Linked DNA regions of Homo sapiens. The protein of the gene in region 1 purifies or fractionates together with the protein of each later gene. This does not show direct contact. Each region holds a gene or a part of one and is shown on either strand. Other genes may lie near its edges. The genes, in order: RGMA, SPICE1, NBEAL1, SAMD4B and ANO3.

What was found.
Region 2: the proteins of RGMA (region 1) and SPICE1 purify together in Homo sapiens (affinity purification with mass spectrometry; one large-scale study listed by BioGRID and IntAct). This does not show direct contact.
Region 3: the proteins of RGMA (region 1) and NBEAL1 purify together in Homo sapiens (affinity purification with mass spectrometry; one large-scale study listed by BioGRID and IntAct). This does not show direct contact.
Region 4: the proteins of RGMA (region 1) and SAMD4B purify together in Homo sapiens (affinity purification with mass spectrometry; one large-scale study listed by BioGRID and IntAct). This does not show direct contact.
Region 5: the proteins of RGMA (region 1) and ANO3 purify together in Homo sapiens (affinity purification with mass spectrometry; one large-scale study listed by BioGRID and IntAct). This does not show direct contact.

The regions. Positions count from the first base shown.
Region 1 is NC_000015.10:93,053,750-93,060,206, reverse strand, and holds part of RGMA (repulsive guidance molecule A isoform 3 precursor), read left to right. Parts: intron 1-6,457.
Region 2 is NC_000003.12:113,448,193-113,454,649, forward strand, and holds part of SPICE1 (spindle and centriole-associated protein 1), read right to left. Parts: intron 5,759-6,457; coding exon 5,274-5,758; intron 2,325-5,273; coding exon 2,144-2,324; intron 1-2,143.
Region 3 is NC_000002.12:203,219,211-203,224,577, forward strand, and holds part of NBEAL1 (neurobeachin-like protein 1), read left to right. Parts: 3' UTR 1-5,367.
Region 4 is NC_000019.10:39,376,020-39,382,476, forward strand, and holds part of SAMD4B (protein Smaug homolog 2), read left to right. Parts: intron 1-417; coding exon 418-527; intron 528-685; coding exon 686-772; intron 773-1,427; exon of another isoform or gene 1,428-1,465; coding exon 1,466-1,805; intron 1,806-2,484; coding exon 2,485-2,570; intron 2,571-3,946; coding exon 3,947-4,065; intron 4,066-4,567; coding exon 4,568-4,766; intron 4,767-4,970; coding exon 4,971-5,094; intron 5,095-5,605; coding exon of another isoform or gene 5,606-5,693; intron 5,694-6,457.
Region 5 is NC_000011.10:26,329,169-26,336,167, forward strand, and holds the start of ANO3 (anoctamin-3), read left to right. Parts: upstream 1-2,961; 5' UTR 2,962-3,107; coding exon 3,108-3,153; intron 3,154-6,999. UniProt on the Homo sapiens protein: Has calcium-dependent phospholipid scramblase activity; scrambles phosphatidylcholine and galactosylceramide.

The DNA.
Region 1 (6,457 bases):
TGGCCCCTGCCCAAGGACACACTCAGTGGCTGGAGTAGAAATGGAAGCTCAGGAAACTTCTTAGGTTTTTCAGTCCCCTGGTTCTGTGTGTATTGGCTGTCCTGGATCCATCAAGAGGCAGCTCCAGAGCTAGAAGGTATAACTTTCTGGACTGCAGTACTGGGCAGGTGTGCTCAGCTCACACCCTGTGGGGCAGCTGGCTCTGTGTTCAACGCAGCTTGCTCTGAAAAGCAGCTTTCCTCTTCCGCTTGCAGGAGTTGCTGTAAGATCTGTTTTTCAGCTCAAACTTTCCTTCCTTCTTTCCATGGACGTTCGCATCAGAAAAGTCTAAGGTTTATTGCCTGGAATTGGGGTCTTTTTATAAAGATACAGCACATAAAAATCGGCCTCTCTGAGATCTCTTTGGCAGGTGACACCACAGCTATTGCTTTTGATGCTGGGCCAGATTTCATTCAGGTCCTTGACCTCTGGTGGGGGGCTGCAGTTGGTGATTTAGTGCCGTGGAGGCAAGGTGACTGGATGGCCGTGGAGGTCAGGGCCCCTCACTCCAGTCGCTGCCCGTGGGGACTGCCCAGCCCCTCGCATGGGAAATGAGGCCACACACACACATTTCTGGGACCCATCGTTCCCAGAGAGCTTCCTTTCCACATGGAGAGATGGCAGAGGGGAGCAGTCACCCTTTATTCTGGTCCCAGCTGGTCACTGTCAGTGGCCTTTTCCAAGTCATTCCCTTGAGCTTTGGAAGAGAGGAAGCCTCGTAAACTCTTAGGAAGATCTGCAGAGCTGGATCCAAGTTCCCTGAGAGTTTGGGACACCTGGGAAACCCAAGAAGTCGGGATGGGTCAGTTGGCAGCAGCCGCTGCTCCTGGTGGGCTCCGCACAGACCTTTGTGGAGGGAGGGCCCGGAATCGATTAAGCTTCTGGTTACTGCCCTGAGACCAGATGGGTCTGCGGCTGCATAGGAGACCCGCATCATGCTTTTGGGCCTTGGGGGAGCTGGGTCAGTCTCAGCTGGTGTCCTGAGGAGGGACTTGTGGCAAAAGCATCTTGAAAAGCATAGAAACAGCTCCAGGCCTGCCCATCTCAGCCCCAGCCCTTCCACTTGTGTGACCCAGGCCCGCTCGAGCCCGAAGCCTCCGTGTTTGCATCTGCAAAATGACGATCAAAATTCTTGCCCTCTAATCGGCAGTAGCGAGGATCCAACAGGAAAGCAATGTGTCACCTGCACAGGCCCCGGGAGCGCAGGCTATTTTATTGTCACGATCATGTTTTGTTTTCTGGGGTGAGGCCCAGCCCACGTACCTACCCAACCTCCCTATGCAGTCCTGGGTGCACAGCCTCTTCCCCAGTGAGGCCCCCAAGACAAGAACTCTTGTCTTCGTTCGTCTTTGTGGCCCCGCAGCACCTTCGTGTTGCCCGGTATGGAGCGTGTGGAAATCCGAGAGGTGTGAAGGAAGAGGAGAATGCAGCTTGGGGGCTGAGGGCTGTGGTTTGCACCTTGCCCCCTTCAGGGTACCTGAGGGTGGGGTGGGTGGGGAGCTATTTAATGCCTCTAGGCCTCAGTTTCCCTGTCTGTTGAATGAGGATAACAAGTCAGTCCTGGGTCTATATTAAGGGCTAAAGGAGACACATGTACAATGTCTAGCCCACAGTAAATGCTCGATAACACATTAGCTGTTAGTTAAGCTCAGCCTCTCCCATAAATTGTGATTAAACAAAACAAAGTTAACACAAAACTGGCTGTCACAGAGCTTCCTTCCCGAGTCTCCCGGCTTTGCTCACATCAGTGCCTGCAGTCCCTTTAACACCCCTCTGGTGAGGTGCCCGTGCATGCCTGTAGCTCAGAAAGGTCAGTGAATTTGCCCACAGTCACACAGCTCTGGAGTGGCGGAGCTGGAGTTGATCTCGATGCTCTGCCCCACCACAGTAAGGTCCACCGCTGCGGTGAGACCCTCCCACTGGGCACTGCCCCATAAGAACATCTCACCTGTTGCCTGTCGACCCTGAATTCTCTCCAGTTCTCTCTGGGTGGGGAAATTGCAAGTATCCTTATTTTTCTTTCTCATATAGGATCTAAGGTCTCTTCATTTACTCATTAACAAGGGAAGGACAGAGGCAAACTTGTTGAAATTGTGCTTCAGGACCCAGAGTTTCTCACCGCATCTTCTCCCAGAAAATGTCTCAGCAGAAGAGGCATTTTAGGATGCCGTGAAAACTTGGGGAAGGAAGGGGTTGTGACAGGCAGGAAACCGAGTGCTCTCTGTCAGGAACAAGGACATAGAGACTGGACCACACAGGCTGTGGGGTACAGAGGTCTCCCAGCAGAGATACGAGAGCTCGATGTGCCACCCCCCAATCTCTCCCTCTGAAGAGCCAAGGGGATCATCCCAGGCCTGGGCAATCCCTGGGCGAAAACACGTCCTTGTCGGGAAATGGGAAAATGGGGTAGGTGAAGTTAAGTCAATCTGGTCCTTTGGTCTCTGGCCAGACAAATGTCTCCAGTGATACTGGCAGCTTCTGCAGAGGTGACTTGGGAGGGTGCAGGAAGGAGAGGAGGGAGGCGGCCAGTTTTCCCTCTATGACTGTCTCTTTAGCTTGGCCACCATAAGAAAATACCCCAGCCTAGGAGGCTTAAGCAACAGACGTTTATTTTCTCAGCGTTCTGGAGGTGGGAAGTCCTAGATCCGGTACCAGCATGGCCCAGTTCTAGAGAGAGGGCCCTCCTCCCGGCTCTCAGACTGTGGACTTCTCATTATATCCTCACGTGGCAGAAGGAGGGAGAGGGGGCAGGGAGAGAGAGAGAACGCTTAGCATTCTCCAAATGTCTTTATTTTAAGGGCACCAACCCTGTCGTGGGGGCTCCACTCTCATGACCTCATCTGAACCTAATTACCTCCCAAATGTCATCCCATAAGGGATTAGAACTTCAACCATCACATTTAGGGGGACAAAGTTCAGTCTATAGCGCTCTCCCTGGGCGTGAGTGAGGTAGTGGGGTGAAGCCACCTGGTGCCCATGGGAAGCGAGGCCCCCTCGACAGTCATGACCATTGACTGATCCTGGACAGTCAGTGGATTGAAGGAGCTGCCAGGAGTTGGGGGACCTGGATCCAGGTGGAATCCACTGCGCCCTGAGAGTGAGTGCCAGCAGGGCCTACCCCGGGGAAGGAGGGAAGAGGAGAGATGCCACATCTGCTGGAGCTTCACCAGGGAGGGGCAGGCTCCCTCCAATGCCCCTCCTGTCCCCCAAGTCTGTGACTTCTAACCTCTGACCTCCCGGGGCTGCAAGCATTGTACCCCACTGTGGCCTTTGTGGGGGACCCTGTTTGTTGGATGCCCCTGGGGCTCCAGGCACGCCATGTACATCTCCTCATATCCTCAGCGACCCTTTAAGGTGGACACAGTCTCTACTTGACAGTTAAGGAAACAGGCTGAGTCAAGTTCCCGAAACTACTGGTAGGGGACAGAGTGGGACTTTGAACCAGACACCTCCCTTCAGGGCCTGTGCTGGCCCTCAGCCCACCCAGAGCTGGGGCTGGCAGAACTTGGAGGGAATAGTGGGGCACGGAGCTCACCTCACCACCAGGGTCCTGAAGCCTACAGAGGAGTCGGGGAGACGGGGACCCTGGTTCCTGTGTGCAACGGTTCCAGAGTGTGACCTCTGCCACCATCTTTGAGTGGCAGGCAGACAGCTACGCCTGCTGGGTGAGGGGTGGTCTTGTTCTTAGAGTGGGTGGGGTCTGGGAGGAGGAGAGGAGCAGGAGAAGGTGCCCATGTGGAACGGAGAAGTGAAAGGGCCTCGTCTCAGGCGCTTCTTAGCCGCTCTGCATCAGGGCTAAGGTGGCCGCATCCCTGCTGTTTGCTCCTGGGGGCGCTGTCTGCCTCTTGCCACTCCTTTGCCTGCAGCCCCCTTCTCTGAAACTTCGCCACCAGCCCCCTCCCCATCCTGGGGAAATGTCGCCTTCACACACTCCGGGCTGGCCCGGCTCCATCAGGCACTAGCTTGGCTTCTGTGACCGTTGAAAAGAAAGTGAACCAACTCTGAAGCCTCACTACTCAAAGTGGGCCGGGGACCAGCAGCATGGGCCTCTCCTGGGAACTTGGTAGAATTGCAGAACCCCTGGGCTACTGGGGCCTGCCGAGCTGGGTCCCAGGCCACCCAGTACAGCCTCATCTGGGGCTACCAGATCCCACTCTGTGGCCCTGGAGCATGCGAGGGACCCCTCTCCGGGGTACCTGGGTGGGATTTCTGTCATGAACTGCCCACATACCCCAGAGTTCTGTAGCTGCGGTGCTGCTCTGAGAACAGTTTTGAAGGCTGTGGAGGTAGCAGATCCCGATCACGAAGCCAGTCCACTTAAAATTCAGGAGGCTGCGGAGTTACCCATTTGGAGGGTAGAGCCACACCTGGGCACCAGTCTGACCCTGCCGTCGAGCCCCTGCTCACCCTGGGAGGTGACCCCTTGGAACTTGTCTGCTGGAGGCAAGGCAGGGAGAAAGCGTGTGTGGATCACAGGCCTCCTGCTCCTGGGAGCACAGTGTCATAAGATGGGTCTTGCAGGAGAGGCTGGAGCCCACCCGTGGGGGAGGGAATCGGGTGTGCTAATGAGGTTGTGTGATGATGTGTGGCTGCCGGGGGCGTGAGCTCTCAAGTCCAGCGGGCTGGATTCATGTCCTGCCCTGGCTCCTTCCTGGAAGTGAGACTTGGGCAAGAAGTCAGCCCAGCAGAGCCCGGCTTTCCCCTGAGAGCTGGGGATGGCAGTCGCACCGGGAAGATGCAATGAGGGGAGGCCTGTACCGCCTGCAGCACCGGACCTGGGACGGAGCCAGCCAGCTGGGACTTCACGGTCCCTGCTCTCCTAGGTTCTACCAGATTTGGTCGTGGTGGAGAGTCAGAGCCCAGCACAGCTCCTGCTTGTGTTGCAGTGGGACCTGCTGTAAAGGGACAGGCAGTGTTCTTTCCTCTACTTTGGTCACAGTAAGTGCCACAGGTGAACCGGAGCTTGAGCGTGGCCATCCATTAACAGGAGACCAGTGTTCCTTCCGGTTGATTTTCTCTGACACCCACATCTGCATGATTCTGAGGAGGCAGAATGGCAGGTCAGCACACCGGGCCCCTGGAATTAGTGAGGCTGCCGGGACAGGCATTGTGTGTAGGCCACCGCGCCAGTCAGTTCCTGTGTGCTGGGTCCCTCCAAACGCTTGTTCTGCGTAGCACTCCCTCCCCATACACGCCCCCACCACACTCACCTCCTGTACCGGCTTTATCAGGGGGCGGCAGGGAAGCTACCACACCAACATTTCAAAGCCTACAGGTAGGTTGGGCCCTTGCACATCTTGTACAGGTTAAGGAGACGTGAAGACAGCAGGGCAAGAGAATCTTCTCGTTGCCTTGGGAGGGAGACCTCTCCTCAGGAGCACACCTGTGTAGGAGGAAGACTACATGGGGGCATCTCACCAGTGCCCCCCACGTATCTACCACAGCATCCCTTTACGGTGGTGTATTAGTCTGTTTTCACACTGCTGATAAAGACATACCCAAGACTGGGTAATTTATAAAGGAAAGAGGTTTAATGGACTCATAGTTCCACATGGCCGGGGAGGCCTCACAATCATGACAGAAGGCAAAGGAGAAGCAAAGGCACATCTTACGTGGCAGCAGGCAAGAGAGCATGTGCAGGGGAACTCCCATTTATAAAACCATCAGATCTCATGAGACTTATTCACTACCACCAGAACAGTATGGGGGAAATGACCTCCTGATTCACTTATCTCCACCTGGCCCCACCCTTGACACGTGGAGATTATTACAGTTCAAGGTGAGATTTGGGTGGGGACACAGCCGAACCATATCAAGCGGGCACCACCTGACTGTCATTTACCTAACCTGACCCTTTAAGTGAGTATACTTCTTCAATTTAAAGCTAATAAAATGGAAAATCTGTAGCTCTTCCATCAATTTTTTTTTTTTTTTTTTTGAGATGGAGTCTTGCTCTGTCTCCCAGACTGGAGTACAGTGGCGCCATCTCAGGTCACTGCAACCTCTGCCTCCCGGGTTCAAGCAGTTCTCGTGCCACAGCCTCCCGAGTAGCTGGGATTACAGGTGCGCACCACCATGCCCAGCTAATTTTTGTATTTTTGGTAGAGAAGGGGTTTCATCATGTTGGCCAGGCTGGTCTCGAGCTCCAGACCTCACATGATCTGCCTGCCTCGGCCTCCCAAAAAGTGCTGGGATTACAGGCGTGAGCTGCCATACCCAGCAATTTTTTTTTCTTAATGCACATTTAAATAAAGATATGACTTCTCAAATTAAAAGACAAAGTGTTCACTTAGGTATCACCTGAAATTACCTTGTTACTGGCAGTATGGCAAACGGGTCACGTGAAGGGGGGAGCCCAAATTTCAGATGAGCACTGACTCGCCCGTGCTCAAGTCTGTGATCTGGGAAGGTGACTTGT
Region 2 (6,457 bases), on another chromosome or scaffold:
TTCACTCAATTTCTATCTTACTGCAAACTGCACATTAAAAATTTGGTGGTTCTTTCCATCTGTTTTAATCTTAGCCCAAGATACACTTGAAAGACTTTTTTTTTTTTTTACTGAACTGTGGGATAAGAAACTTTAGTTACTAGTGTTAATTCAGTAGCATGCCAGTTCATAGAGAGCCAAAATCTTCAGACAAGTGGCATCATGTCAGCTCTGGAGGTGAAAAACAGGAATTAAGAGCTAGCCCTAAAGAGCTTGAGATCTTTGTCCAAAAGAGCTTACCTAAAGTTTTCCCAAAAAAAAAGGAAAAAGAAAATTTCTGAAGTCATTCAGTAAAACTTTAAATCTTTTAAATCGATTACATTATGACTATTACTGAAGACATTAAAGTAGGAGAGGAAAGTTGGCTGAAGAGCTCCATATGGCCAATAGCAAGTATAATTATGAATATTTTCCATATTTCAGAAGTAGGTAATCAATCAGCATATTTACTAAGTATTTACTAATGAAAGACTTAATGTTCATCACAGGCAGTTTCACAGAGGCTCCTGACTTTGTGTGACTTCCTGGCTTTACAAGGTAATAAAACCCTATTTAATTTTACAAAATATTCCTCAGTTACCCTAGAAAACAAAAGAGGTTTTTCATGATATATGGTTTATTTTTATTTTTATCATTATAGTCCACAGCAGCTTTTTTTTAAACAAATATAAGAATTTTACTTATAAAAAGAATACTTTAGAGATAAATCACTGGACAGGAAAGAACGCAGTTGCAAATCCACAACTTGCTTTGTAACTTGATAAATCACATAACCTCTTTGTACCTCAGTTTACTTATTCATCAAATAGGTATAATATTAGCCCTGTCTCCTCTTAAAGTATGTTGAGGACTAAATTACATAACATAAATAAAAGCATATTTTAACCATACACAAATACTGAAATGGAAGATGTATATTTAAACACAAAATTATTCTTAAGGCTGATCTGCTTTATTTTTCTTCCTTGCACTTAGCACTAACTGATATTATCCCAAATATTGATTTGTTTGTTGCCTGCTCCCCTACTCAAATGCTAGAGTATTCAAGCCCACACATGGCAGGCACATAGTACATGTTCGCACATAGTACATGTTCGCACATAGTACATGTTCGCACATAGTACATGTTCATATATAGTTAATTGATTTATTTATTCTAATCAGAAGTTGTCTCTAGGCTTCATAACTATGAAGAACAGTAGACAAAACTGTCATTTGAGGAAGCCTAGAATAAACAGAGAGCCCTGGGGAAATGCATTACCATCTTTTTCCAGCAATTTCCAAAAGAGTCTGCTTTCTGGGTCTGTATTTCAAAAAGGAAATAATTTCTGAGGGGAAAAGTCTTATTGGAAGGTATCTTAAAGGTAACCTACTTCAACCAGAAATAAGACATATGAGTCCCCTTCAAACACCAATGTTTGAACATCTCAGAGAACACATCAATTACTGGTACATGGAGCTTTTTCTATTCCTGACAATTAGAGCCTTCTCTTTTACTGGGCCAAAATCAATCTCTCAGTACTCTTCATGTAGCTGTCCCTTGAGGGCCTTAATAATGCAATTTCTGATAAAAAGCAACTTGATACATACTTCGTTTCATCAGTATCTTTTTGAATGTGAATACTATGACAATTTTTTCAGTTACTATTTTATTATTCAGAATCCCCTCTAGCTTTTCACATTCCTAAATGTAACAAAAAATTTAATTGAGTGAAAATGTTTTAAGTGTTTTACAGAATAATAACTTGTAATTCATTGCTGATGAAATTCTAAATGAACATTCAGATATTTCATGCTTAGTTGCAGCATATGACCTAAGTGAACCGTACACTATAATGAATCCCATTTAGATGTACGATAATTTAGGAACTCAGACACCAAAGATTAACTATAGGCATCATAGGATAGAAATAATCAGGAGATCTGCCTTCTAATCCCATTTCTGTCACTTATCCTGTGAGTTAGGGCTATTTCTTTCTGTGCAAAATTGAAGGCACCAAAATATATGCTCTGATACTTCTTTTGGCTTAATATAAACTTGCAAAATCAAGAAAACTGAAAACCTTCATATTTCTAGTTTTTAAATCATGAATTTGTGACCAACCAGTCCATGCTCTGAGAGGTAACTGAACAGGTGACATTGGTGGAGAAAGATTCAAACCAACAAGTTTCTGCTGCTCTATCAACTGCAGTAGTTTTCCACGAGCCTCCATACTTTGTCGATTCAATTCTGCAATCCGTTCCTCCATACTACCTGGTGTTAGAGACTGTGCTACTGGAAAAGTCTTTGGGAGAAAAAAAAAAAAAGTACAAATTGAATACTGAATACTGAAAAATCTCTCCCACGATTTTTTTTTTTTTTTTAGGCAGAGTCTCACTCTGTTGCCCAGGCTGGAGTGCAGTGGCGCTATCTCGGCTCACTGCAACATCTGCCTCCCGGGTTCACGCCATTCTCCTGCCTCAGTCTCCCGAGTAGCTGGGACTACAGGCACCTGCCACCACGCCCAGCTAATTTTTTGTATTTTTAGCAGAGACGGGGTTTCACCGTGTTAGCCAGGATGGTCTCCATCTCCTGACCTCGTGATCCACCCACCTCGATCTCACACAATTTTGACTTACTAATGGCCAGCAAGTTAGTATTCATAGCCCTTATTATATATAAATGTGAATAGTGAGCACACAATAGAATTTACAGTCCCTTTAAGCATATATTCTGGGAAAAGCTTTTCTGTATCTCTTAGTATCTGCAGAGCTGCACAAAAGATCACATGAGCAAAGAGACTGCTCCAAGTGAGCTGGTCTCTAAGTAAATGCCACACATCTTTGAAGACAGATCTGCAGTTTGACAGATTACAAAAGAGGATCTGCTATCTTGGAAACAGAAGTTTCTATAATTACAGGCTTCAAATATGCACCATTTGGCAAAGATTCTGGGAATCTTGTCACTCCTTCTAACCATATGTCAGCCTCCCCAAGCCACTTTTGGCCTAAGGTATCTGATTCAAGAATAGTTGGTGATTGGAAAGAAATATGAGAGGTAGGGTAAAAAATAGCCGCCCAAAAAATATAGCATAAATTTAATTTGAAAATTCCCCCCCCAAATGTGCTTATGTCATTCCTAATTATTTCATTATTCCTAATTATGTCATTATTTCAGTCCTAGTTATTTCATTTCTCTTTGGAAAAAAATAATCCCTAATAAAAATCACTGATTTTTAGCTTATGTCTATTAGTAATAAATAAATAAATAAATAGGAAAATCAGTATGAATTAAAGATCATTTTGTATTTCCAATTAAAACAAAAGAGGGTAGTGAAGACAGAAATATTAGATAGTCCCTTCCAGCTTGATCTACATACTAATTAGAAAAGGAGGCAAGCAAAACATTAGACTCTGCTGTCTTTTTTAAACCAAGAGTTGCCTGTTATGAATAATCTTCAAAACTACAAATATATAAATGCCTCCCAGTGACTCAAAATTGAGGCAGTTGATATTTACTTATATACACCACTACCAATGGCTGGCTGCTCCCTACTAGCAATATTCCTTTCTGGCTCCTCTTCTGCCAGTTCCTTCTGTCTACTTCTATGATTCAATACCCATATTGTCCTTATTCCCCATGACCCAGTGCTGACAGAGATGGCCCTTACCCTATGACTCACCTCACCCTAACCTTCCTCACCAAAGCCCTCCAACCCACTGTTGTTAAAGCCCTTATGAACACAGCCACCTCACGAGCTTCTAATCCCCAGTGACAGTGCCCAGCTCCTCCTATCAGAAACTTGACAGGAGCGGCCTTGGCTCTAGAAGGGGTAAAAGAAAGTGTCTACCATCACTGGAACCAGCATTTGGAGCTCTTTTATAAACCCTCCCTAGCTGGAATTTAGACTCCCTATCTCCCCCAGAAACAACGAAATGAAGGTTTAAGTTACCAGGTTAGCCCACAAAGTTTATTTAACTTACAAAACTCCTGCACTATAAAATGCAGACCTTTGCTACTCAAAGCGTGGTCCTCAGACTAGCAGCACTGGCATCACTTGGGAACTTATTAGAAATGCACAGGTCCTACCCTAGACCTACTCAATCAGAAACCACATTTCAGCAAGATCCCCAGATGATTAATATGTATATTAAAGTCTGGCTTTAATAATCCTTTAAAACATTATTTCTGGCCAGATGCAGTGGCTCATGCCTGTAATTCCAGCACTTTGGGAGGCCGAGGCAAACAGATCACTTGTGGTCAGGAGTTCGAGACCAGCCTGGCCAACATGGCGAAACCCCGCCTCTACAAAAAATACAAAAATTCACCAGGTGTGGTAGTACGCACCTGTAATCCCAGCTACTTGGGAGGCTGAGGCAGCAGAATCGCTTGAACCCAGGAGGTGGCGGTTGCAGGGAGCCAAGATTGCGTCACTGCGCTCCAGCCTGAGCAACAGAGTGAGACTCCATCTCAAAAAAACAAAACAGGCTGGGCGCAGTGGCTCATGCCTGTAATTCCAGCACTTTGGGAGGCTGAGGCGGGCAGATCACGAGGTCAGGAATTCAAGACTAGCCTGACCAACATGGTGAAACCCCGTCTCTACTAAAAATACAAAAATTAGCCAGGTGTGGTGGTGCATGCCTGTAATCCCAGCTACTTAGGAGGCTGAGGCAGGAGAATCACTTGAACCCGGGAGGCAGAGGTTGCAGTGAGCCGAGATCATGCCACTGCACTCCAGCTTGGGCAACAGAGCAAGACTCCGTCTCAAAAAAAACAAAACAAACAAACAACACACAAAACAAAACAAAAAAACCACCTCATTTCTATAGGAAAATCCATTCTATGTCCTCAAAAATTAACTACTCATGAGTTGAGGGCCAATACTCTTTTATGAGCCATTTTAAAAATAAAAATATTTTCAATTAACATGTGGCTGTGTGGCAAACATTCAAGTAACATTAATTCTATATTTTATACCTAAAACTTCATTCCTAACTTAATCTTAGCTTTCCTACGCATTTTATCTTTGTCCTATTTTCATTTATATAATTTCCCTTTTATGCTGTCTTGTATTGTATGTACAACAGACTGATAAATAACTTGGACCTATTGTATTGAGGACATGCCAAACATAAGCCATCTAGCCTCAAAGCTTTCTAGGATCACTTCTGAAAAGAAGTTTCTTAAGTTGCCCAAGCTAAAGTTCCTATTTAAATTCCTATATGTCCCTAATCAATCCTTAAATGGTACTCACAGAAGTCATGTCACTTGCACTTTCTTGTTTGTTCAACTCCCGGAGTCCATCCCCTTGCTCTCCTCTGGGCTCAATAATATTATTCATATGTGCCTTGATAGCTGAATTCTGCAATGTCAAATCAGCAATTCGTGTCATTATGTCCTTTCTTTGTATTAATGACTCATTTGTTCTCAGCTGCTGCCCATCTCCCAGTACTGGGAGCTCTTCTGAGAATGTGGGGCTTCTTGACTGTTGAGTGTTGGAATGGGAATTGCAGAGGGGCTGTGAGAGGTTAACAAAAGGAGCCTGAGTTTTGTTCTCCAAATCTTCTCCCATGTGAGAGACTCTCCATCTCTGAGTGAAGAGACGATTCTCTTCACTTGAATTCTGAATGTCTGTATCAATAGGTAAGGTCTTCTCTTCCCAATTTTGTTCCTTCTCAATTATTTCCACAGTTGGAGGAAGTCGTGGAGCAGGACGAGTTTGAACAGTCCTTCTCAATACTATAGATAAGAATTTAAAAATAACAAATATGTATTATTTTCCCATAGATTGGCACTATACTCATTTCATTAGCCCACCATGGTAGTTAGAAAAGTATTTCAGTAGAAGGGTTTGGCTTCTGAATGCTTAAACTATTTTCAGCAGAGAACACACCAGCAATGCCGCCCCTCGTAATCAAGTACAGAGACTTTTTACATTCCTTAAAGCATTTGTTAGTACCCTTGTGAAAAACCATCTGTCAAGTTCACATTTTAACGCATATATTAACTCACATCTGGGAATCTTGGGGAATGAGGAAGTGGGTATAAGTACCCAATTTAAACAGCAGATAACCAGGAAAGGCCTCTCTGAGGAAGTAAAATTTTTAAATGATTACATATGTAATAGGAACTGAGCAAAGGACATTACAGGCAGAAAATGACTGCCTTTAGGGGTATGTACTGTGAAAGCTGTCAGAATCAAAATGGAGTCATTTGGCCGGGCGCGGTGGCTCACTCCTATAATACCCGCACTTTGCAAGGCCAAGGTCGGCAGATCACCTCAGGTCAGGAGTTCGAGATCAGCCTGGCCAACATAGTGAAACTCAGTCTATACTAATAATACATATTTTAAAAACTAGCCAGCCATGATGGTGCACGGCTGTAATCCCAGCTACTCAGGAGGCTGAGGCAGGAGAATAGCTTGAACCCAGGAGGCAG
Region 3 (5,367 bases), on another chromosome or scaffold:
AAAATACTGATTTTTTTAGAAACTTTTTCTAAATCAAAACCTACTAAGTTTTATTTTGTTATTTATCCAGAGATTTTGATGTAAAAATGCCTTCATTTTTAAGATTACTTAATACTGGATTTGAAAATTATTTTGGATGCTTATAAGTTTTCTAAAACTTAGATAATTAGAAAAAATGCCTAAGTTTATGATGTTTTACTATGCTGCTTTTTAGATGGAAGAAATAAGCAGTTTTTACTTTATAGTACAAATAAGTTTTGTTCACAATAAAATAGATATCCTACCTGGACTAATACTAGATGTACAAGGTAGTGGAATTATTTCTTATATTGCTTTTTCCAAAAAGTAAAAACCAAAAATGTGGGCCGGGTGTGGTGGCTCATGCCTGTAATCCCAGCACTTTGGGAGGCTGAGGCAGGCGAATCACAAGGTCAGGAGTTCAAGACCAGCCTGGCCAACACAGTGAAACCCTTTCTCTACTAAAAATACAAAAATTAGCCGGGCATGGTGGCACATGCCTATAGTCCCAGCTACTTGAGAGGCTGAGCAGCGCAGGAGAATCACTTAAACCCGGGAGGTGGAGGTTGCAGTGACCTGAGATCACGCTACTGCACTCCAGCTTGGGCAACAGAGTGAGACTTTGTCTCAAAGAAAAGAAAAAAAATATGGAATTTAGAGAAAAATCTTTGAGAATACTAGCAACAGTCTAGAGAATGGAACTTAAATTTTATCTGTTAAAAGAAGCAAACAACTATTAGTGAATAATATATTACTCATTTAAAGAGTATAGCCTACTGAATTAAAAATCACTAGATAAAATAATTGGAAAGAAGTACTTTTGAGAATTCTGGTATATTTAGATGTTACCCATAGAAATTAGTTATATATTATATAATGGGAGAAATGAACAGTATCATTGGAATGAAATAACAGGTGGACATTTCAATTGGTGAATATAGTATCTCAAGTTGGCTCTTACAAAGTCTGTTACCTGGCCAATTGTGGTGGCTCACGCCTATAATCCCAGCTCTTTGGGAGGCCGAGGTGGGCGGATCACAAGGTCAGGAGTTCAAGACCAGCCTGGCCAACATGGTGAAACCCTGTCTCTACTAAAAATACAAAAATTTGCTGGGCATGGTGGCAGGTGCCTGTAGTCCCAGCTACTCAGGAGGCTGAGGCAGGAGAATCGCTTGAACCCAGGAGGCAGAGGTTGCAGTGAGCCAAAATCGCACCACTGCACTCCAGCCTGGGCAACAGGGCAAGACTCCATCTCAAAAAAAAAAAAAGTCTGTTATCTTTGCAAAACTTTTTGTATGCTTTTGTTTCTTGATACTGGTGATGACAAAAATAAAAATCTCAGCATCCTGGTGATAGGAAGAGATTTATACCAAGATAATTATTTTACTTTTGGAAAATGAGATCAAGTATTAAAACATGTAATAGCTGTGCACGCTTAGAGAATAAAGAACCTTTATAAAATTTTTTTACAACTGTTTGCAATCAGTATTCTGGCATTACTCAGATAAAATTGTAAGAGAGAAAGAAAAATAGATCAGGGCATAAAAATCAGGAAAGTATATAAAAATGAAGTTTGGCAAGTTGGTTTAGTCTTTCTTTTTAGCCTGTGAAGCTCACGTCTGTTATTAAGTTAATAACAAAATTAAAATCTGTTAACTTTGTTTAGGTCACAGTGCAGTGCATCCTTTTGTAGAAGAAAAAATACCAAGTGTTCATTCTGTCATTAGCAAGGAACACCAATGAGGTTTCTTTTTTTTCTCTATTTAGGGCATATTAAAATTATCCTTCAGAGTACTTGTATTGAAAATCAAGTTTATGCTTCTGAAAAGAATAAGTGGGCTCTCAGAATTAGAATTCAGATTTGACGGTTGAATCTTAAGACATTTTATATTTTGTGTGAAAAGGAGTGGTCAGGGGAAACTGTTAACTTGGATACCAGATTTTTATTTAATGATGATAGAGATATGACCTTTGCCTTTATGTATATTTTATATTGTTACTACTAAAGAGACCACTGAGGAAATCTTGTAATTGAACTTAAGGAAGTTAGCTCCTTTTATATATTTATAAAATGAGTAGCATTATCTTTACCACCTTTCCACTGAAAAGATGCAAGTCCTAGGACTATATTAAATATAAATATTATATTATTAAATAATATATGTAATATGGGTGTCTGTTGGGGTTATGTGTGTGTAAAGATTGGTCTTTTCAAATATGTATATTTAAACCTGTCTTCTGGAAACAGGTTCTTGAACCTATCTTTAGGATACAGTTTTTGACTGGGATATAAGAAATGAAACATGTTTGTTTGTTTCCTTTTTGTTTGTTTGTTTGCATCATCAGCCATACTCATGGCTTATCCTACGCATTGTTCCTCTCATCAGCTGAAACTGTTTCTCCCCAATAAGTGAGCAATCTTAAACATTTTCATCACTCTTTAACAAAATCCATTCTCAATATTCTTTTTGCTGAATTCGTATATTGTATATGCTCAACATATTATTTGTTTTAAACTTGACTCCATCCAGAGCATTGTTCTATAGAGTTTTCCTGTATTTATCAGAGTCATGTGGTATTTTTCTTGATGACCTTAGGCAACAATATAGTGTTATCAGTCATCATTTTAATATGATTTAAAATGTGGACCACAGCCTGCCTTCTTTAGTTTAAATCTAGGCCAAGCATGGTGGCTCATGCCTATAATCTCAGCACTTTAGGAGGCTGAGGCAGGAGGATCACTGGAGCCTAGGAGCTCAAGACCAGCCTGGGCAGCATAGTGGGCTCCACCTCTACAAGACATTAAAAAATTAGCCTTGTGTGCTGGCAAGCGCCTGTAGTCCTAGCTGCTCGGGAGGCTGAGGCAAGGGGTTTGCTTGAGCCTAGAGATCAAGGCTGCAGTAAGCTGTGATTGCACCACTGCACTTCAGCCTAGGTGGCAGAGTTAGACCCTGTCTCCAAAAATACATTTTTTTAAATTTAAATCTGGCAGTTTCTAGGCCAGTGGTTCTTAATGGATATTACAGATCAGACTTCTCTGTGGAGTTTATAAATATACAGATATGTAGGCACTGCTTTGGACTTCATGAATCTCTTTGCTTGATATTCTTGGTATTAAAAAATTATGTCTGAGGATTATTATGTTATATCCTAAAAATTTTTCTGCATAGAAATTTGTCCATTTATCTTTATATACCAGATCCAATATTCAGACTTATTTGAAAATAGGCTTAATCATTATCCTGAGGGACATTTTGTCTAAAATTTGCTTGGAATGGCTTTATTATCTTTGTTTTGCCTGCCACAAAAACAACAAAATCTCCTTTCAATTGAGTTATTTTTATCATGAACTCTCTTTAGACTGTTCACATTTGAAAATTATAACTAATATTTGCCTCCAGAAAAGTACATCTGTTTGCTAATATTAGTTCCTGGTGACTTTCAGTGAACGTTTTGCAAACTTGAATTAGGCAACATTTTAAAGAAGAAAAAAACATGACTAACATGCTAAATTTAAAACATAAAAGTAGATCTCTTAGAGCCTTGAAGCTTGTAATCAATAGAATTTTCCTAATTAAAAAGCATTGGGTAAATTATCTACTACTTCCAATGACTTTTGCAGGTACAGCCTCTGTATGGAAATAATCTTTAATTTTTTATAGGTATAACAGAGAAGAACGCATTAACATTTAAGATGTTTAATTCCAAATAGGAAATAATTCAGTTTTCTGTGTTAAGAAATGTAAGGCCATCCTAGAGTATAGGAGTTACGTGATTTTCTTCTGTATAAAAATCTCATTTAATAGTGGCTGTATTATCAGATACTTATTTGATTATAGTAATTCATCAGACACATCTCCTTCGTTTGGTGATTATCTCATTGATCTTTGTCACACGTGAGTGATTTCTAAACACATTGCAGGATTTGGACCTGTAAAGCCAGTGGCTTTAGTGATAAGTAAAAGGGCACATTCAACAATATTTACCTTTGTCTTAATGCCCATAATCTTATGAACTGAAAATTCAGAAGGAAAAGAACAAATAGAAAGCTACTAATTCAATATTTGTTTTTCATGGTACGGTTTTCATGTTTCCTTGGAAACATATTTTGCAAATATAACAATAATAGTAATAACACAATTTTGTCATTTAAAAAATTACCCATTCATTTTTCAAACTTGACTGTTAGTGGAGGGGTATATGTGTGTCTGTGTTTCCACTTATGTAATGGCTGTCTCATTATTTAAATTAATTTATAATTATTTTTCAGTGTACAGAGTGATTAGCGGCTTGTAATGCTGTTACAATGTAGCATTGTAATGTAAGATGAAGAAAAATTAGGATTTAGGTGGGATTTTTAAAAATTTATCAATTCAGCTACTTTTTAAAAGAAGTCCTATTCCAATTGGACCTTTAAAATTTTTATTTTGGTAATATTTCAACTTAAGATGTATTAAAACTAGCAATTCTGTGGTAATCAGTGTACTAGTCAACATTAAAATGCTATTTTGGGTTGTCTTCTTTTGGTAACATATTCTGACACTAAGCAACATGTTTTACAATTTAGTGGGATGAACCTACAAATTCATAAATGCTTCTCTTTATTTTGAAGGAAAAAGATACTTGTCTGTATACGACATAATTGTTTTACTCTTCAGAATGTGAAAGTTATATTAATCACTAAACACTTTAAGAAGTGGTTCTGGTAGGATATCAGTAGTCAGACTTAATTGAAAAACTGTCAGCGTCTGTTTTGTATATAGGGATTAAAGAGGATAACTTTATTTTTTCCTTTGGAAAGAATAATTCTTTTGGAATTTTGGAATTTTGATTTTCTTAGATGACTTTTTAGCAATTTAATGATAATAATTTCTATTTTTCTTCCAAAACTATGGCATGTTATAGTAGATCTTACTATTAAAGATCTTTTATATTTTAAACTGTTTTTTTCCTATTCTGCTTTTTGCTGCTCTCAAAGACTGTGATTGATGAACATCACCAAACTTTTTTTGTGGCAAACTGCTTATTTTATAAGTAGCTTTATATAAGAAAACTTCTTAGAAAACTATGTGGCTGGTTGGTTCCATTTAGAAACTCTTAACAGGTATGGCTTTCATTCCTCCAGTTGTTTGCTTTTATAGACTTGGAGCAAAAAATATAGCAAAAAGTAATCATATCTGGCTAGATAGCCATTTCTCTCAGATTCATTGCTATAAAAATGAATCTACTGAGGCATAAAAATATGAAACATATTTAATTCATCTCTTTTGTCAGTTTTTCTGGGACTCCAATAGCATTTCAGTGTTATAGAGAGTGACAGTGACTTGAATGCATGTATATGCACATAGT
Region 4 (6,457 bases), on another chromosome or scaffold:
TCCCTGCTTTTAGGGCTCAGGACTAAGCAGAGAGACCCCACATCTACCCTAACAAGTTCTAGTCTGACTGGGAAGGAGCCCCCTGTCTTCACACACCCCAGTCTGACAAGGAAGCCAGGACACAGCTAAGTGATGGAACAGAGGTTCCAGCAAGAGTTTTGGAGCAATCAGTGAGGTCATCCTGGTATACATCCAGCCTAGCAGCTTAGAAGGGTCAGATGTCCTTCCCAGGGAAGGCTGCCTGAGGGTCTGGCTAGGCAGATGAAGAAGGAGCTGATGGAACCTTAGCTCCCCCCAACCCCCTCCCAATTTTTTGCATCTTTTGAGGCTTCCTGTGGGTTTATCCCCACAACTTTTCCTTTACCCTGGTAATCTGGGCCAAACTCCTGACCTTTCACTCTCCCTCCTTTGCCAAAGATGTGCCCTCATGGCTCAAGAGCCTCCGTTTGCACAAGTATGCAGCCCTCTTCTCACAGATGAGCTACGAGGAGATGATGACACTGACTGAGCAGCACCTGGAGTCTCAGGTGAAGCCAAGGGGACCATCAGGGAGGTGCTGGGGGCAGCGCTAGTTTGGCATCCTTGCAGCCCAAGCCTCCTCTGTCTCCTTGATCTCTATTTGGGTACCCCCAAATATCTCAGCCTCACATCTCTAGCTTCCTGTCCCCTTCTGCCCTTATCACAGAACGTCACCAAAGGTGCCCGCCACAAGATAGCCCTGAGCATCCAGAAGCTGCGTGAGAGACAGAGCGTCCTCAAGTCCCTAGAGAAGGTGAGGACCTGGTTTCTGCATCTTCAAGGCCAGCCAGCCACTTGGTGGTACCAGTAGACCAAAGGCCCTGAGTTGGCCTCCAGACTCCTCGGATGTGGCCTCCAAAATTCCCAGCCCTAGGGACCCAGACTTCAGGGACCACATGCAAGCCGGCATCAAAAGGCTCACTTGCTGGTGGCTAAGAGTCTCCCCTCCCTGTCTTTCCTGGTTTGTGGTTCCAGGATCTCTGTCTTTTGACTCTACACCTTCTCTCCCCTTTTGCTTTTCCATTTCTTACTGGTCTTTCTGGTAGAGCAGAGTGTCTCTGTCTGTACAATCTCTCTTTCCATTTGATTGTTTCTAAACTCATTTTCCTTCCACATCTGATTCCGTTTCCTTGCCACTGCCTTCTGTTTGTATTTTTCCCTGCTCAGTGTCTAGGTCTGAATCTCTGATTCTATCCTTGTTGGGTCCTTGAGACTCCAACATTAGACTGGCTTTTCGTGAGTTCTGTGGGACTTCATCTTAATGGGAAAGAGGAAATGTGTACCTATATGTTTGTGGGCTTGCAGTACCCTTACATGCCTTCTCTATGTGCTGGAACCCAGGGTCCTACCCAGCCTTCTGCAAGCCCTGTCTGACTCTCTGTGTAGATACTCTCTGTCCCTCATTGTAGGGTCTGCATGTGACCCCAGCCTGTGTCCTCCCATCCAGGATGTGCTGGAAGGCGGGAACCTACGAAACGCTCTGCAGGAGCTGCAGCAGATCATCATCACTCCCATCAAGGCCTACAGTGTCCTCCAGGCCACCGTGGCTGCCGCCACCACCACCCCTACTGCCAAGGATGGGGCCCCGGGGGAACCACCGCTGCCAGGTGCTGAGCCTCCCCTAGCCCACCCCGGCACAGACAAAGGCACCGAGGCCAAGGACCCTCCAGCTGTGGAGAACTACCCACCTCCACCAGCTCCAGCTCCCACTGATGGCAGTGAGCCTGCCCCGGCTCCCGTCGCCGACGGAGACATCCCCAGCCAGTTTACACGGGTGATGGGCAAAGGTGAGACCAGCCACAGCCTAGCAGGAAATCCTGAGGCAGAAAGCCAAGTGAACCCAAGCACCAGGGATCAAATCCAAGTTCGATGGTGGGAGCAGGGCTTTGTAAAGCCTACTGGAGACTGGAACACTACAGAGAGTAGCCAAGACAGGGTGACAAGGCCCCTTGCCCTTGGGCACGTCTGGGCTGATGGTGGATAACAGCCCTTCCCCTCAAAGCGTCTCCAGGCTGAGCAGAAATGGGGCAGTGGGTCAGAAGAAATTCCATGTAGTAAAGGGTGAGCAGTTGAGGGGAGTCCATTGATTTCTCTCAGAGGGGACCAAAGTCCAGGGGATGGGGATGGTGAAATTTATCACAGCTTCAGCCTTTCCTAAAGCAGCATGATACAGCAGACTTTACACTTGGATCCAGATCAGTCTAGATCTGGATCTGGACCTGAGGCAAGTGACTCAACTCTGAGCTTTAGGTTTCTAAGGCTAAAAATGTGTGTAGTGACAAGATTGTGTCAGGCACTATGTTGTATATCCTCATGATAACCCAAATACCATGGCTAGCACTTAATAGTTGATATTCATCCAGCCTGAGTCTCCTGTTCCTTCTTGTGCACGAGCCAGCTGGAGGCTGGAACATGGCAGAGGGCATACTAGGGGTTAACCTCCTGCCCTTTCTCATGTCCCCCCAGTGTGCACCCAACTGCTGGTGTCCCGACCAGACGAGGAGAACATCACCAGTTACCTCCAGCTCATCGAAAAGTGCCTGACTCATGAGGTAAGGCCTTCCCTAGCATACTCAAAAAGGGAAAGGCGGCCAGGCGTGGTGGTTCACGCCTGTAGTCCCAGCACTTCGGCCACCGAGGCGGGCGGATCATGAGGTCAGGAGATCGAGACCATCCTGGCTAACACAGTGAAACCCAGTCTTTACTAAAAATACAAAAAATTAGCCGGGCGTGGTGGCAGGTGCCTGCAGTCCCAGCTACGCGGGAGGCTGAGGCAGAATGGCGTGAACCCGGCAGGTGGAGCTTGTGGTGAGCCAAGATCGCGCCACTGCACTCCAGCCTGGACGACAGAGTGAGGGAAAGCCTGCCCCATCTTTCTCAAGACCATTGTGTTGTATGTGGCCCATAGGGCCTTACCTGACGTGGCACATGCCAGCCCTTCCAGTCTTGTATCTTACCAGTGTTGGCTTTAGAGGCTTCTTCTCAGAACCCTTGTACACACTCTTCCTCTCTCTCTCTCTTTTTTTTTTTTTTAATAGAGACGAGGTCTCACACTGTTGCCCTGGCTGGTTTTGAACTGACCTCAAGTGATCCTTCCACCTCAGCCTCCCAAAGTGCTGAGATTACAGGCGTGACGATTTTCTTTTTTAGAGATGGAGTATTGCTTTATTGCCTAGGCTGATCTCGAACTCCTGGCCTCAAGCGATCCCCTGCCCTGGCCTCCCAAAGTACTGGGATTATAGGCATGAGCAACCATGCCCAGCCCGTACATACTCTTTTGTCAGCAACAGTACCCTTTCCTCCTCCTCACCCCTCAGCTGTCAGTTCAAACATTTATACCTCAGGGACACCTTTACCAACCCCTCATTTTTATTTAAGTTTCTTTTGCTTCCTGTTCTTCTCCCTCAGGGAGGGATAATTTGTCACAGTTATCATCATGTATGTATCTTTCCCTCACAACCAGACTGTAAGCTCTCTGGGCATGGTCACCTCTGCATCCCAGAATTGCCTGGCACAGGCACAGAGTAGATGAGCAATGAATCTTTTTTTTGGAAACAGAGTCTCGCTCTGTTGCCCAGGCTGGAGTGCAATGGCGCAGTCTCGGCTCACTGCAACCTCCGCCTCCCAGGTTCAAGTGATTCTCCTGCCTCAGCCTCCCAAGTATCTGGGATTACAGACACACACTACCATGCCTGGATAATTTTTGTACTTTTAGTAGAGGTGGGGTTTCACCATGTTGTCCAGGCTGGTCTCCAACTCCTGACCTCAAGTGATCCACCCGCCTCAGCCTCCCAAAGTGCTGGGATTACAGCTTGAGCCACCACGCCCGGCCAGGCAATAAATATTTGAACAAATGAATGGAAGACTGGAAGGGAGGTCTGAAGGAAGCATCACCCTCTCTGCTTCACCGGTGTCCTGCCAATTCTAGGCTTTCACGGAGACGCAGAAGAAACGGCTGCTATCCTGGAAACAGCAAGTGCTGAAGCTCCTCCGGACATTCCCGCGCAAAGCCGCACTAGAGATGCAGAACTACCGGCAGCAGAAAGGGTAGGCGGGTGGCCAGGTTACAGGGACCTGCCCTCCATAGGCCTTTGCTGGTTAGCAGATCGTGCTTAGAGGGGTGATTGTGTTCTGGGCTGAGAATCTAGTTTTATTCAGTCACTGGGCGACTTTCCCAGAAGAAAATTTCCACTAGAATAGGATGCTGAGCTGAAAAACAACACATGTCCCATGAGCAGGCCCCTCATATGTACCTTGCTCCTCGCCTGTATGCAGAGGGCCTGGAAGTCCCTCCTTAGACCAGACAAATAACAGAAATGTCTCCTTTGAGAATTGAAGATTGGAGAACTGTTTTGAGTGGACAGTGAAGAAACCCTTGTACATGTCCCATCTCCTTCCAGGGGGTACCCTTGGGGCAGATGAGGACAGAATGTGTGATGGAGGTTTATGTTCTCTCCTACAACTTGGGGTTGTTGGGGAAGGTGAGGAAGGGGTGGACAGATAGGCCCCATCTATGTAAATTAACACCCTGCCTTCTGCTCTCTCATAGCTGGGCATTCGGCTCCAACTCGCTCCCCATAGCTGGCTCTGTGGGGATGGGAGTGGCCCGGCGTACCCAGCGGCAGTTCCCAATGCCTCCCCGGGCCCTCCCACCCGGCCGGATGGGCCTCCTGAGCCCCTCGGGCATTGGGGGTGTCTCCCCTCGACATGCCCTCACCAGCCCCAGCCTTGGAGGCCAGGGCCGACAGGTAAGCTGGCTGGAAGCAGGGGCCTGGCCTCCTGGGGTTGGGGTGGCAGTACCTGGGATGTCTATTTGCCTGTATACTCTGTGTCTGGACCCAGCTTAGAGGTGGCGGGGGTGGGAGTGGGAGAAGGCCTGTACCACCTCCACCACTCTTGGGTCTGGGCCTCTTCTGCACTCACTACTTTCTCTCTTCCTGGGACCTGTGTAGAACCTGTGGTTTGCCAACCCTGGAGGCAGCAACAGCATGCCCAGTCAGAGCCGCAGCTCTGTGCAGCGCACCCACTCGCTCCCGGTCCACTCGTCACCCCAGGCCATTCTCATGTTCCCTCCAGGTGAGGTGCCCCACCCTTGGGACTCTGCCTGGCCAACATCCTCAGCTGACCTTTCTTTTTTCTCCTGGGTCTCATGTCCACTGTTCTTCTAGACTGCATTGGCACCTCTCCCCATACCTCACACCACTCTGCACCCATCTCCCCCAATTGTGGGGGGTTGTTTTCCTCCTCTGCTTCAATTTTATCTCTCAGGTCTTGCCCCCACCCCTCTGAGTCATCATCTCTCACCCCTTACTCCTACCCCATCTCATGTTTCCCACCCTATGTCATAATCTTAGTGTCTGTGTTGCTCTTTGTCATCATCTCTTTCTTTACAGGATCATTGAATACTCAACTTAGAAGGGGTTGAGGGGATGGGACAGTTAAAGTGTGAGATTTCTGTGGAGGGGAGTCCTGCCCATCAGCCTACTGGGATTCTTTCAGATGCCAGGTGACCACACAGGAACCAGTGGACTTCACCTCTTAGAACAGGTGTTTGAAGTGAGAGGGCTGTTTTGACCTCTGCTTACAGACCATCCTGGAGATGGGAGAGCAGAAGTTGGGCCAAGTGCGGGCACAGTAACTCACACCTGTAATTTCAGCACTTTTGGGAAGCTGAGGCAAGTAGATCGGTTTGAGACCAGTCTGGACAACATGGCGAAACCCCATCTGTACAAAAAAATACAGAAATTATCTGGGCATGGTGGCACACACCCGTAGTCCCAGCTACTCGGGAGGGTGAGGCAGGAGGATCGCTTGAGCCCAGGAGGTCAAGGCTGTAGTGAGCAGAGATTGTGCCACTGCACTGCAGCCAGGGCGACAGTGAGACCCCATCTCAAAAAGATGTTGGGACAAGTGGGCAAAAGGAAGATTAGAGACTTGCTAACCGCAGGTCCCTGCCCTGCTCAACAAGTGAGGGGTTGACTCCTCCACACGGTGCTGGCCACTGGGGCTGCAGAGACAGATAAGGCTCGTCTGGAATGGGCTGACTCTAGAGAGAGCATGGATTTGCAGAATTCATGTCATAAACTGCCAAGTCAGTCAGGAGTCTTACTTGATGAGGTTGTGTAGACAGCCATCTGTTGAGGCCGTGGGAACCCATCCATCATGTTCATCCTAGCACAGGGCTTGACACACAGTAGGCATCTGTAAATGATGTTAAACAAGCAGGTGGATGAACCGCAGGAATGAACAAGAACCATTCTCTTTACCAGCATGCTGTGTCCCAGGCTTTGTCAGACAGCTCTCCTGCACTGATTGACTCCTCCCAACTGTATGTGTAAGGACGCTGATGTTATTCATCAGTCAGCAATCTGAGACAGGTCTTGCCCAAGTTCAAAAAAAAAATTCTTTTTTTTAAGGAGAGACAATTGGGTGATCTGAT
Region 5 (6,999 bases), on another chromosome or scaffold:
CAATGGAAATGTCAGTCCATCAAAATGCTTCCTTTTACCCCAACACAGAATTTTTATTTTGAGTTAAAAAAGAGGGCTTTTGCTCAAACTCTTCTTTCTACACTTCCAAAACGTACTTTCTTTCTTTACACACACACACACACACACACACACACACACAGAGAGAGAGAGAGAGAGAGGAATCTTTTTCTCTTTGCACTGCCTTTCTATAAAGCAGATGGTGCTTCAAATTTCCTCGGCCCCTCACAAAGCTGTTCCTCTAGCAACCTCCCCTAAAAGACTGATTTTAAAACAAGCAAAGATGTTCTTTGAATCCCCTGCTAGTCAATCTGGCAGTCCAACCTAAAATGTTTCTAATTTTAAGAAAAGTAATTAACTTTATGACAAGATAGTTTAATCATAGCTGCACCAAGGAGGTTAGGGTGCAAGGGTGTTAGAAATAATAACAAACATTCTTTCCTTGGAAAAAAATCCAATGAGGTTCAAAATCTCAACTCATTTCTAGTTCTGGCAGATACATATTTGCCTCCTGCTGGGTTTTGGATCAGGGAGTAGGTTGGAGAAAATCAGGGATCAACAGAAAAAGATCTTAGGAAGGTAAAGGTGATACCTGTGCCTAGAAATGTGGAATAGAGGGACTTAAATTTTTTTTTTTTTTTTTTGAGACGGAGTCTCGCTCTGTTTCCCAGGCTGGAGTGCGGTGGTGCGATCTAGGCTCACCGCAAGCTCCGCCTCCCGGGTTCAAGCCATTCTCCTGCCTCAGCCTCCTGAGTAGCTGGGACTACAGGCGCCCGCCACCGCCCGGCGAGGGGACTTTAATTCTTTTAACTAGTCCTGCTGACCAGGGATTGAATTAAAGTTTAAATTTCAAAAATATTTCTGATTCTAAAACCGGTGATTTAAAAGGGGGTTTTAAACATTTAAATGAGATCTACAGGGGTCATAACTGACTAGTAAGTATTGGGTGTTAGTTTTCTGCCATTCTTAAATTCATTGTCTAATCCTCACGTAGGAGAATTGGGTTGCATTAGAATCAATGAGTTGGTTCACATCAGAATGATCTGTAAGCTGAGTTCTATCAGAATTTTAACTCTGGATGAACAAAATTTAAAAAAAACATCCTCGAGCAAGTCATTTATTCTTCTCGGTTTCAATGCCCTCATCTATACAATATCTGTATTAAAAGCCCTTACGGAGACAGTCTCTGAACTGTGTTTTAGATCTTCATTTGGAGGTGAACTCACACTGAGTTCATTGTCTGTAACCAAGTATTTCTTCAATGCCTGCATACTGAGCTCTTATTGAATGCTCAGCATTTCTTTCTGGAAAGACCATTATGATACATTAAAGAAGGTAGCACATTGTTTGCTCTTCCTCCCACTGAGAGTAGAATCCAATTTCGCTTTTTGCTTCAGATGACTTTAAGACCAGTTACTGAACAATCAAGAGAGACTCTGAGAGATAACTGCCTGTCTGAATCTAGCCCACCTGCAAAATCCATAAGTAATAATAATAAATTTTAGTTTACAGCTTAGTTTCAGGGTAGTTTGTTATGCATCCATAAATAATTGGAGCATCTGTTTGTTCAAAGCTATATTCCCCTCATTCTTTTGTATCATGCACCACAGATGAATCAAACAGCATACAATAATAACTCAATATTTTTGAGGTATCGAAAGTTTGGAAATTTCTGCATATTTTTTATCTGCTTTTATTTGGATTATTCACCTGATTCTGAGTTGATTCCATAAAACTTCAAAACTGAGGAAGCAACGGACTCTCACGATGTGTCTGTTCAATAACATCTTACATCTTCCAGGAAGAACTTAGGGCTTTGAATCAGGGAGCAGAGATAGATGGAGGAAAGGAGATCCTACTGAAAAATGTGTTCAGCTAGCTTCTGGTCCTATTTTGGCCACTGCAGTTTGGTCTTTCAAAAGTTACTTCAAAGTGGGAGCTGAATGATGAGAACACACGGACACAATGGGGGAACAACACACACTGGGGCCTGTTGGAGGGGGAGGGAGAGCATTAGGAACAATAGCTAATGGCTGCTGGGCTCAATACCCGGGTGATGGGGTGATCTGTGCAGCAAACCACCATGGCATACGTTTACCTATGTAACAAACCTGCGCATCCTGCACATGTACCACGAACTTAAAATACATGGTGAAGATATAAATAAATAATAAAATAAAACTTCTCAAACTAAACAAAAAGAGTTACTTCACTTCTTTGGGTATCGGGTGCCTTCTCTTTCAAATAAGGTGTTGATTTATGTGGTCTTGAGAAATCTTTGTTGCTCTGATCTTAAGTTTCTTTTTATAATATTAGAATCATAGTTTACCTACATTACAGGGCTTTTATGAAGATTAAATCGAGCATCGTGGGTAGTGTTTTTTCAGCCCCTGTGACTAAGTAGGTTATAAATGGTCCTCAGTCATCATCATCATAAATGATTCAAGGCCTGAATGGCAGAAGAAGAAGAGGAAAACTCAAGTGAAAAGTGCTAGACATAGAACACAGCTTACCTAATAAAACATGCTACTGGCTAACTAAGCTGGGGTGGCTTTCTGCCCCCTCTACTTAAATTTAAGAAAGAAAAACAGAAACGTCTCTGCATCTGCCACTGCATACCCTCTCAGAGCACAGACCAACTTTGCCCTTCCTTAAAAGTCCCAGGGTTTACCTACCAACTTTTAGGAAATAAATAACCAGCCTCAAAGCTTGGCAAAGAGGGCATCAGTATCAGCTCTAGAGGTTTGCTCCGATTTATATCTCCTCCTCCAGTAAAGTCTTCTGCTCCCACTCCCAGCCAACCCCGCTCAACGCCCACCCCTCACTGTGGCACTGGACGCGCGGGGGATGCGGGGTTGTTCCCAGAGTAGCCGCTAAGGGGAGCCGGACGCTAGACCGCCCTCCCGCGTTCCCATGACAACGACACCGGCGGGCGCGTAGCCTGGAGAGCGAAGTGCCGGCTACAGCAGGTGTCGGATTGCAGTGCGCTCGCTGAGGCTCCGGACCTTGGAGCGTCTAGAGTCTGGCTACTGTTCCTCCGCCTCCCTCTCGGGCAGCTCCCTAAGCCGGCTGGGACGCGCAGAGTGAAAATGGTCCACCATTCAGGCTCCATTCAGTCCTTTAAACAGCAAAAAGGTCAGTTGGAATCTTGCTCCCCTCTCCCTGCGGGCGTCACTTCCCCCCTGCATGCCCTTGCAGTTGTGTAGGAGCATCCTTTGCAGGCTTATGCGACACAGAGGTGGGGAACTCTGTGAAGTTAAAAAAAAAAAAAAAATTAAATTCCTCTTCACTCTGCATCCTAGATGAGTGATTTTCTGAGCCTCCGCACAGTGCCTGGGAGTATCGGAATTCGTCATTTCAGGACTTGACTTAATGTATATCTCTGTGAAGACTGTTTCAATGCACTGCAGTAAACCCGCTTAGTAGGGATTGTCCGAATAGCTCAGTAGAGCTCTGAGGGGTGAGGACAGAAATGTTCAACAATATCTGCCGTCTTCTGTGGTTCAAATGTTGAGTAATCTTCACAAAAGTGTGTCTACTCCTTGAGACGCATTTACACAATCATAAGATAAATGAATTCTTGGGGGAGTTCCAGAGTTGGCCTGTTGCAGTTAAAGGGGCTCTGTCACTTCCTTGGGAAAATTTATTGTTTGCCCATGTCCCATGCTTGATTCTGGGTTTCAAGTTCTTGAGGTTAGGTTTCTCTTCTAGGGGCTTCGTATTATGTCTTTTAGTTTCTCCCTCAAGTTTCTTGCTGGGCATAGTGACAAGAATCTGTATGTTCAAGTTATCCTCACTCTTTGATCTTTGTTTCTTATTTGGTTTAAAAGGCTTTTTACAGAGCATTTTTATTTTGAGGCACATTCACAGTTTTTGGAGTTTTATTATCCAGAAGCATTAATTAACACAATTGCCACTTTGCTGAATTAATAATGGTAATTATGATACAGTTAACCATAGAGTGCCTTAGATGTGTGAATTCTGGAATGCTGAATTTGTTCATTCAAAGTAAATATTTACTTAAATATTCTCATCCCCACCCTCCAGATATTATTTGTATTTCTTTCATCAACAGTTGTTTTTATGTAGCTCTTTGACTTTTTTTTTTTTTTTGAGGTGGAGTCTCGCTCTGTTGCCCAGGCTGGAGTGCAGTGGCGCGATCTCGGCTCACTGCAAGCTCTGCATCCCAGGTTCATGCCATTATCCTGCCTCAGCCTCCTGAGTAGCTGGGACTACAGGCGCCCGCCACCAAGCCCAGCTAATTTTTTTGTGTTTTTAGTAGAGACGGGGTTTCACCGTATTAGCCAGGATGGCCTCCATCTCCTGACCTCGTGATCCGCCCGCCTTAGCCTCCCAAAGTGCTGGGATTACAGGTGTGAGCCACTGTACCCGGCCCTTGACTTTTTTGTTTGTTTTTAACAAAAACTAGATTAACACACAAGAAACAATTTCGAAGGGATTCCTGCGTAAGACAGAATATGGGACTGACTGAGTTTCCAGTTCCATAATTCTGTACTCAGTTCAAGCCCAAGTTCTCTAGGATGTTTCAAATATATGTTGAAATTGGGAGTGATGTGTGAGACTGTAGGGGTAGACAAAAATTTCACCTAGTATGCACTTCTACTTCAACTCTAAACATTTCAAATAAAGTTAAACTGCTTCAAGAAGTTGTGTTCTCTTTAATCATGGTTTTAAACATACATAAACTTTCAGAATGAAGACAAAGATGATAGGAACTTTGCAACAGCCTCACAGAATAAATACCTCCACTGATGCATTGGCTATGGGTGACTCATTTCTGGGATCTGGAAGCTTCAAATGGCCCCCACAACAATGTATTATGTATGGATACATGTTGTGTTTTTAAGAAGGAAATAATTGACAACTGTAGGTCCGACCGTCATTGCTCAAAGAGAGTGATAAGAAATTGTGCAATTGCTGGCATTTCACATTGTTTCCTTTATGATGCATTATGAGCCATTTAATTTCAAGTCTTCCTTTACTCTTTGGCACAAAAGGCAACTTCAGCAAAAGGATACAAATCTAGAGGAGGAGTACTCCGGTAGGAAGGAAGCAAGATTCATTTTAGCTAAGTGGTTCTGGTTAATGGCTTCTTAATCCTGCATGGGCATTAGGAAAAAAACAGACCAAATTGAGGATTAGCTATTTTTATTCTTCAAATAGGAAGAAGCAAAATAATTCTCTAGATGTGATCTGTCCTAGGAGGTATGCAACAACAACAACAAAACATTCAGATGTGCTTTTCACCATAAAATTAACCTGAAAATTGCACATTAAAATGGAGAAAATTCTGTAGTGGAACTCTGTACTCCTAGGTTCTAAGCTTGCGTTTGTTACTAGCTGAGAAATCTTCAACAAAGTGGTTAATTTCTTTGGACTTTGCTTCATACATAACATGAACAGAATACATTCCTAATCCCTTTGGCCTTTTCTGTCTCTCTTCCTCTGTTTAATGGGAGGGACGGTTTGCATATGAAGGCAGAGATGATTTCTTCTGTGACCAGATAAAGAGGAGAGCCTTGCTTTTAGTTTACTTTTACGAATTAATTTAGCTGAAAAATCCAGTTGATGGAATTTACTTTTGTTTTATTCAAGTGAGCTCAATGTCTCTTTTAAAAATTTTGATTTCAACTTGAAAATATCTAGAAATAGCCTGATATAACTAGAAATCACCCTTGTTATATTATTTTTAAAGTTTCCACCCTTAATTGAAAAACAGACACACTCAATATTTAAACTCTACACAAGGCATAGGGATTCTCCTTTATATATGAGAACTATGTATTAACCAATCCCCGATCAAAATTGGTTTTGATAGGTAAGTATAAGTATAGTATAGATAAGTATAGATGCCAGACTGGTTATCTGGGAAATGAAATACTGTATGTAAGCCCTAATTTATTAATTTAATCTCTGGTCTTTATTTTGAGCCCTGGATATTAATCCAATATATTCTACTTACAGGTTATGTCATTTAATATCACTAAGCCACAGTAACTGCTTATGTGAAATGAAGATAATTATGTCTATCTTGCAGAGTTATAAGGTGTTTAGCAGTTTGTCTGACACACAGTTGGGGCTCAAAAAATTTAGTGATTTTCCTTACTAAAATTCATCTAGGCTCATTCACCTTTGGTTGGCTCTTTAGTAGTATATTGGACTCTTAGCAGTTCCCTTATAATTTCTTGCCTTTTTTTTTCTTTTGCATCACGCAGCTTTATTACTTTGGGATTCATCTTAAGGAAAACAGTGGACTCCAGACCATCTATGGATGGTTTTTTAAAATAGTCTGGAGTTAACTATCACAAACTCTCCTCAATTCATATGTCCATCCCTCAGGAAAACTTCCAAAAAATTCCCATAGAAATTTTTAGGTTTGTAATTAACTTTATAATCTAAAATGTTTTTGCAAGAAATGGTATTTATTTACTGTCCACTCTTAAGTACCATGCTTTTGCTGCGTGTATGCCAGGGACTGTGCTTAATAATAGCATTATTCAGTCCTCTTTTGTTGCTGAATCTGTTGCTGCAAAACCCTCCTCCTTAAAGGACTTGCTACTATAGGAAGTTTGAGAGATTTGCTAAACACCTTTACGAGAATTGCAGACAACTCTGCACTTCTGTAGGAAAATGTTGACGTTTTGTTTTTTGGCAGTGCCAGTTGTGTTTATGAAGAAGATATACACAAATAGTTTTGAATTTTACTCCACTGTAAATTTTAGATTATCTTATTAGGAGGCTTAATAGGAAGTAAAAAGTGAGACATCTGTGCAGTGGTGGGGAGGGGGAGGCAGTCTGCTTATTTTTGATGTCCCAAGGGTAAATTGGAGTGTATTATGGTTATAGACAACTGGGAGCATATGTTTGCTTTTGTCTTAGCACATCTTGTAAAAACACATTAGCTGACACATCAGCAGTGATTTCTGGGGAAAGTCCAACTTTCTTCCTAGCCTGGCTTTC